Linked DNA regions of Homo sapiens: region 1 is reported to be linked to region 2. Evidence: microRNA targets listed by miRTarBase, many of them from high-throughput screens and not tested one by one. Region 2 holds a microRNA gene; the other region holds the end of a gene's coding sequence.
Evidence for each region. The annotated mature microRNA hsa-miR-493-3p reads UGAAGGUCUACUGUGUGCCAGG and lies in region 2 at 1,279-1,300, opposite strand. An mRNA with a match to its seed (bases 2 to 7 or 8) in the 3' UTR can be bound and repressed. Matches are read on the target gene's strand: a 7mer-m8 pairs with bases 2 to 8, a 7mer-A1 pairs with bases 2 to 7 and ends in A, and an 8mer does both.

Region 1: the mRNA of KCNB2 is a reported target of hsa-miR-493-3p. The part of its 3' UTR that is shown has no 7-base or 8-base seed match.

The regions. Positions count from the first base shown.
Region 1 is chr8:72,937,654-72,941,059 of GRCh38, forward strand. It overlaps KCNB2 (potassium voltage-gated channel subfamily B member 2), which reads left to right. Exons shown (of 3, transcript NM_004770.3): 3 at 1-696. The coding sequence ends at 438. Among named protein-coding and RNA genes, the nearest start is that of KCNB2-AS1, 58 kb to the left of the region's middle.
Region 2 is chr14:100,867,010-100,870,415 of GRCh38, reverse strand. MIR493 (microRNA 493) reads right to left here and starts at 1,356; the gene lies at 1,268-1,356. RefSeq lists an enhancer at 2,708-2,877.

The sequences.
Region 1 (3,406 bases), not on the chromosome of region 2:
CCCTTGCTGGGCACTGAGGTTTCAGCGCCTTGTCAGGGACCTTCCAAAGGGCTGTCCCCCAGGTTTCCCAAGCAGAAACTGTTCCCTTTCTCTTCAAGAGAGAGGAGGAGCTTCACTGAAATAGATACTGGTGACGACGAAGACTTCTTAGAGCTCCCAGGGGCAAGGGAGGAGAAGCAGGTGGACTCCAGCCCAAATTGCTTTGCAGATAAGCCTAGTGATGGGAGAGACCCTTTAAGAGAAGAGGGCAGTGTGGGCTCTTCCTCCCCGCAGGACACAGGTCACAACTGTAGGCAAGACATTTACCATGCTGTGAGTGAAGTCAAAAAGGACAGTAGTCAAGAAGGGTGCAAGATGGAAAATCACTTGTTTGCCCCAGAAATTCATTCCAACCCAGGAGACACAGGTTATTGTCCCACACGTGAAACCAGCATGTGACTAGTTACAAAAGCAATAAATTGAAACAAAACAAAACAAAACAAAACTTGTTTCTTAAAAATGCGGTTAATAATGCCTGTGAACTAAAAAAATGGGAAGCCCTCCCCAAAAAAAGTGCATAAAATGTTATTTTTGCATGGCATGAACAGTTTAGCTTAAGTACTGTTTAAATAATGAGTCAAGACTGCATTTTGTAACAAACCAACAAAAATGACTGAAGAACAGTGAACAAATAAAAAGAGCTCTATTAGGAACCAATATTCTGCAATGTCTGACATTTTTGATCCTTTCATTTCAAATTGTAGGCCGATTTTCAAGTCTTAACGTTTATTTTACAATGAAGCTTAGAATTTTCACATGAAAGGATGAAATGTCATTGCATGCATTCATAATTATGAAGAATAAGGTACTGTGAGCTTGCAAAATGCATAACTTTGTAAATAATGGGGCCTGGATGCAAAAGTGTCATGAACACATGGAAACAAATTTCTGAGACACAGGTATTTCCTTCACAGCTACTGCCTGGAGGAGCTGTACAGACTTCCTGTTGCAAAATTGCAACCTCTCCTTAAACCATCTCGCATATCTTGCTTTGAGTTATAAAGCTCTTAAAAGTACATTTGTTTAAAGGAATACAGTATTTTTTATTTATTTGTGATATAATTCATAGGCTGCATTTTACTTTTTTGCTTCTGCTTAGTTGTGGCATTTGTGGTTCATTTATAAATCATAGACATAGGCAAGATTTAATGACCAGATATCAAAATATTTGAAATTTTGCCAATAAGTTATATGTCATGCCACAGCCGATTACAGAAATGCATTTTTTAAAAACCTGAAATTATTTAAAAGGTTGTATCATACAATTAAATGTTTTTAAGGCAGTCTACATTTGGAAATTAGTTCTGTTAAAAAATTTGGCCACCTAAAGATGACTGTATTTTCCACTTGTATCCAACATAACATAACCTTTCCTAACTAAAGTTCTAAAAATAGAATACAGATATGCCAAAATGGAAATTCCAAAAAGTGACTTGACAAACTAAAAGCAGAGTCATTTAAGTGAGATTGCCGCTGCCACTCATAGAGTTGGCTGGGAGATGAGTTACTATGAAAAGAGCCCAGGCGTGGTAATGGGTCACCCTATATTTCTCAACATGGGATGCGAGGTGGGGGGACACTGCAATGTGTGGGAGGAAGTTGTTCTTTTTGCAGGATATGAATTACAGAACCCAGAGCACAGATGGCAGTCACACCCTCCTGTAATTACAGCAACTAGAAACACCCCCTTGCATTTCCAACCTTTTCAGGGGGTGGTTGGGACTCTGTTTGTTCAAAATGACTTTCAGCATTTTTGACTAGGAGCGGTGAAATCCAGAGCAGTGAAGACACTGACCAGAGATTGCCCTGTTGGTGAAGTCTGTGCTAGAACCCAGGTCATCTTAATTCACTTTGCTTCACAGGAATCAAGGCTCTGGTCCAAATTTGCAACCACCAGATGTGGGATTCTAGGCAAGCCTGTACAACCTTTCTTGATCTCAGTTTTGCTCCAGTAAAAATCAAGACAAAATTATTTCCAAGGTCCCATAAGACTTTAATATGATTCCTTGGTCTCCCAGGAAGGTCCAGATTTTGCCTCAGCCTGATGCACTTTGTACACGTCTGTGTGTGTGTGTGTGTTTGTGTGTGTGTGTGTGTGTGTGTGTAAAATTCAGGGAAACAGGAAGATGCTGGGCCAAATTTAAAGCACAATTCATGTTTAAATTAAAAAATTCTGAATTTTATTTTATTTTTAAAAGGAAAAAATAGCCCAAATATTTAGACTGTTATTTAAGTCTTTAAAGAAAAACATTTCTTTATTAACAGAATCTGGTCATTATATCTCAGATAAGAAAACAGGTTTTGATTTTAGTTGAAACACAAGCAGACCTACTGCTAAAAATAATTTTAAACATTTCTTTTTTCACTGTGCTTAGAATTTCTTACTGGTTTTCATGTTTGTTTCAAAACATAACCTTAAAGAGTTTATGGTCACTAATCGTTGATATTTACATTACTCATACTTATTTCAGTGTCTAAAGCTAAATATTGATCAGTTTTGTAAATAGAGTGTTTGAATTTTCTGTCTATAGTTTTTCAAGGTCAAACAGGTATATCTGCTGTTAGATGCATAGCAAATAATTTATGAAAATCATTTTATTTACATAGCCTCATAAAGCAATTATTTTCGAACATCTCTTATTGATGAATCTCAACTCTTTTTATTCATCTTTCTGTATAAGTGGACTTGTCTTAATGCGCTAAGAGTTGACTGATGCCCACCTTTCCTATGTCTGTTAGGCCTTCTGCTGACAACACTGCTCCAGAATGTTTAATATTAGAAAGCTTGCCTAGTCGAAGAATCCTAGACATTCCTCCCTAGAAGCATCCTCCCCAAAATCTTTTTTCCCTTCATTCTAAGGTACATTTTTAAGTTTTAGAGAATTTTCTAGTACAACGCATGGAAGCTTATCCTTCCATTTTCCTTAGTTCCTCTGAGCCAAAAGTCTTCAGCTAGGAAAAAAAGAAAATGCTCCTCTAAGAAACATCTTTGACTTTGGTGTTTCACAAGGAGGCAGTGTGGGGACTGAAGGCTCCCAGGATGCACTTGTGTAGCACTTCCTAAGCCTTTTCCATGAACTGCACCTAACGCAGAGAATAAACATGTGTGCCTGGAATGGTCTGGGAATGTCCCAAGCACAGAGTTCTTTTGGAGTCTTATGTTTTACACAAAAAATTCATGTAAATGCTGCATTTTACTTCATAATTTTATATATTCCATATGTTTAAATATTTTAAAAATAATGTTTTATATTATTTACCAACTAGTAAAATGGATACTTGTGTAACTTTAAATACGTCTTTTGTATCCCCTGGAAAAATAGATCCCCAGTTTGAGATGCACTGCATGAATGGCAGGAACAGAGAT
Region 2 (3,406 bases):
TCCAGGCTCCACACAGCAGGACCTCAGCTGAGCCCGCACTTCCTCCCCCTGCCCACCACCCCAGCTGATCCCGCCCTTCTGGAAACCAGCTCACCCTCCTCTGCACTCATGCCCACACCCACGCCCCCACCCCCAGCCCTGGCCCAGGCTCTCCTGCCATCCACCGGTGACACATGACTCGAGGAGGAGCCTAGTGTGACACGTCTGTGTGGGGCGGGGTCAGAGTGATGGGGGAGGAGGCGCTTCTGGCGATGCATGTGGAAGAGGCTCCACGTGACACTTGAGGCTGGGACACTTTTCAGCCTTGTGAACATCTAATGAAGCAAGCCCCTCCCAGGTGAATGATGGGTGTCCTGAGCTGAAGGTGGAGACCCAGTAGGCCTGCCTCATCTCGGTAGACCCAGAAGCATATCTACATGCCACCAATTCTAATTCTGAACGAGATAAAACATGCAGGTAAACAATTCTAAACATTTTTCAGAAGTTCCTCCAGCAAAAGTAACATTTCCTTAGCAAACATGGGACATCTTTAAAGACCACAGAGGCCCCCGAATACTGAGTGTGCTCTAGTCCCTAAAGGGAGGTGACCCTGAGGACCTCAGAGTCCACTGTTTTGTCCCTGGGAGTCCACATCCCTTCACCCCAGGGCATCACAGGTTCTTCCTAGACACCAGAGGGCCCCAGATTCTGGCTTTCCAACACCTAAAAACTTCCAAAATAGATATTTCACAACAAACACTTCACACACAAAAAAGAAAACATTAAAATCAACTGACAAAATAATTCCCATCTTCAATCACCATCATTTTAGAGCAAAACGTACATCGTTAACAATCCAATGACACCCACCAACGCGGGCAGCACAGAGGCTGACCAGCAGACTAGGTGGCAGAGTTCAGGTGCCAAAAGGCTCCTGGGGCGCAGGAATCTTGCCAAGGACTTGGGAGTGAGGACCTTGGGAGCAATCTAGGGACCCCTGAACTCCGGCAGCCATTACTGAGATGACCCATGGGGAATAGAGAGGGGACATGCAATCTCTCCCTCCAGGCTCCACACAGCAGGACCTCAGCTGAGCCCGCACTTCCTCCCCCTGCCCACCACCCCAGCTGATCCCGCCCTTCTGGAAACCAGCTCACCCTCCTCTGCACTCATGCCCACACCCACGCCCCCACCCCCAGCCCTGGCCCAGGCTCTCCTGCCATCCACCGGCTGGCGTGCGTCTCCCCGAGGCGTGCACTCACAAGGGCAACGTCCATCTACACGATGCCTGGCACAGGGCCTGGCACACAGTAGACCTTCACCGAATGTGCAAACGAATGAATGAAAGCCTACCATGTACAAAGCCCTGGAGGCCAGAATGAGCCCCGAAGCGAGGATGATGGAGGTGAGGCGGGTGATGGAGGCTGGAATGGCCAGAGATGAGATGCTGTGCCCAGGATGACAGAGGCCAGATGGAGGTGATGGGAGCCGTGATGATGGAGTCCATGGTAACAGACATGCATGAGATGGACCCCCCCCAAAGACGAGAGGGAGAGGAGGAAGCCAGGGCCCAAGAGCTGGGCCTGGAAACCTCTGAGGGTCAAGGTGGGACATGAAGCAGGAGCCTTTCCTGTCCAGACCAGCGTTCAGCTCGACGCCCCACCACCCACCCCACGCACTTGCATTCACAGAAAATCGACCCTGTGTGATCCTCAGAGAATAATCAGTGAGCCCGAGAGCCCTGCCAGTGAGGAGTGGGACGTGCCCTGGAACAGGGGGCAGCAGACATTTCTGCTTACAGACCCCATGAAGGGATTTTGGAAAGCCACGGATCTCCCCCTCCCATAGCCCATTTTTAAATGGGCCGTAAAAGTTAATAGGAAGTTTACAAAGTTGCAATGAGGTGGCCTCTGGCATATACTATAGCATATAGATGTGACAAATGCTAGGTATGGAGCACTTGTCAAAACCTCAGAGGTCTGGAATCAGCTCATTTTGATTTGTCCACTCTGAACCTCACTGGCAAACCAATCGGGCAAAACAGACTTTTTCAGAAAAAGCCTGATGTCATTTTGGGAACCCCTCAATTCAAATCAGTGTGTAAATATGCAGTGCAAAGGCAAACATTTCCCCCCTGGATTCGGAACCTCAGGTAGATGCATCACCTGGATGCCAAGGAGGGTGGGGCACCGTGGGTATGACGAGAACTCACCTGGAGGCTGGGTGGAGGGTGCAGCATCTGGCCAGAGGGCATGGCGGGCACAGGCGTCGTCCGGGCCCAAGGCCCTGTCCAGAGCGTGATGCAGTAGCCGAGGCCTGGGAGGCCCCATCTGGTCCTGAGGTTCCCCAGCCAGTGCCACAGAGCAGCAGAAGCCCCATGCAGTGGCTGGGGGAGCTGAGGGGCTAGGCACAGGACCCAGCCTGCCCCTTGCTCAACCCATTGTCTTGGGAGCTGCCTTGGAAGCTGGAGACTAGGGGGTGGGGGTGGGGGGGATGGCCAGAACCCCAGACAAGGGGGCAGGGGTTAAGGGGTGGGCAACGGGGGTGGGTTCCACTCCAGGACACAGGAGGGAGAGCCGGTGAGAGGACGGTGTCTGCAGCTCATGGGAGCACAGTACCCCCAACCTTGGCCTCAGCCCAGGTCTCACTCCAGCTGCTTTGCCAAGAAGAGGCAGGGGGGGAGGTGGAGAAGGATGGAGAAGAGGAGGGGTTCAAGGGCCAAGACTCTCACTCTTCTGTCCACTGAGGCAGACCTGGACACAAAGACGGACTGATGGGCAAAGCCACAGGGGATATAGGCATGGGTGACTCCGGGAAGCAGGTCTGGGGGCAGGATGTGGATGTGGCATCGGCACCCAGGGTGCTGTAGGCTCAGGGACAGATCCACTGTCGCCCACTCCCAGTCGCTCTCCACCATCTGTCTCCCACGCATGCACATACACACAAGCATAGAGCTGCATACGCATGCACTGGCAGGCACACGCACCCACACACGTGCACACCGGGCATGCTCACACACTCATAGGCTCACGAAGGCACACACAGGCTCATGGAGGCACACACACCCACACACATGCACACAGCTACCCGCTCCCAGGCCAGGGGCCCCTGTGCTCTGAGCCCTCCCATAACAGGAGCCCGGCACATACATCTGAGCCTAACCCAGAGCTAATGGGCATAGGAGCCCATTCGCCCCACACTAGAGGGTGCACACCTAGGGCTGGGGACTGTGCAGGAGCAGGGGTGAATGGAGGACACTAGCCCCACTGCCAGGAGTCCCAAGTTGCAGAAACCCTCCGGAGGCAGCACTTCTGCAGGAGCACCGGGCTGCATGGAGGCTTTTGGCTAAGGGCTGGCCCTTAGAGGCTCACAGCCAATTCTAAATGAAGGGCAAGAGAGGCAGATCCCCACCTGGGTGACTAACCCC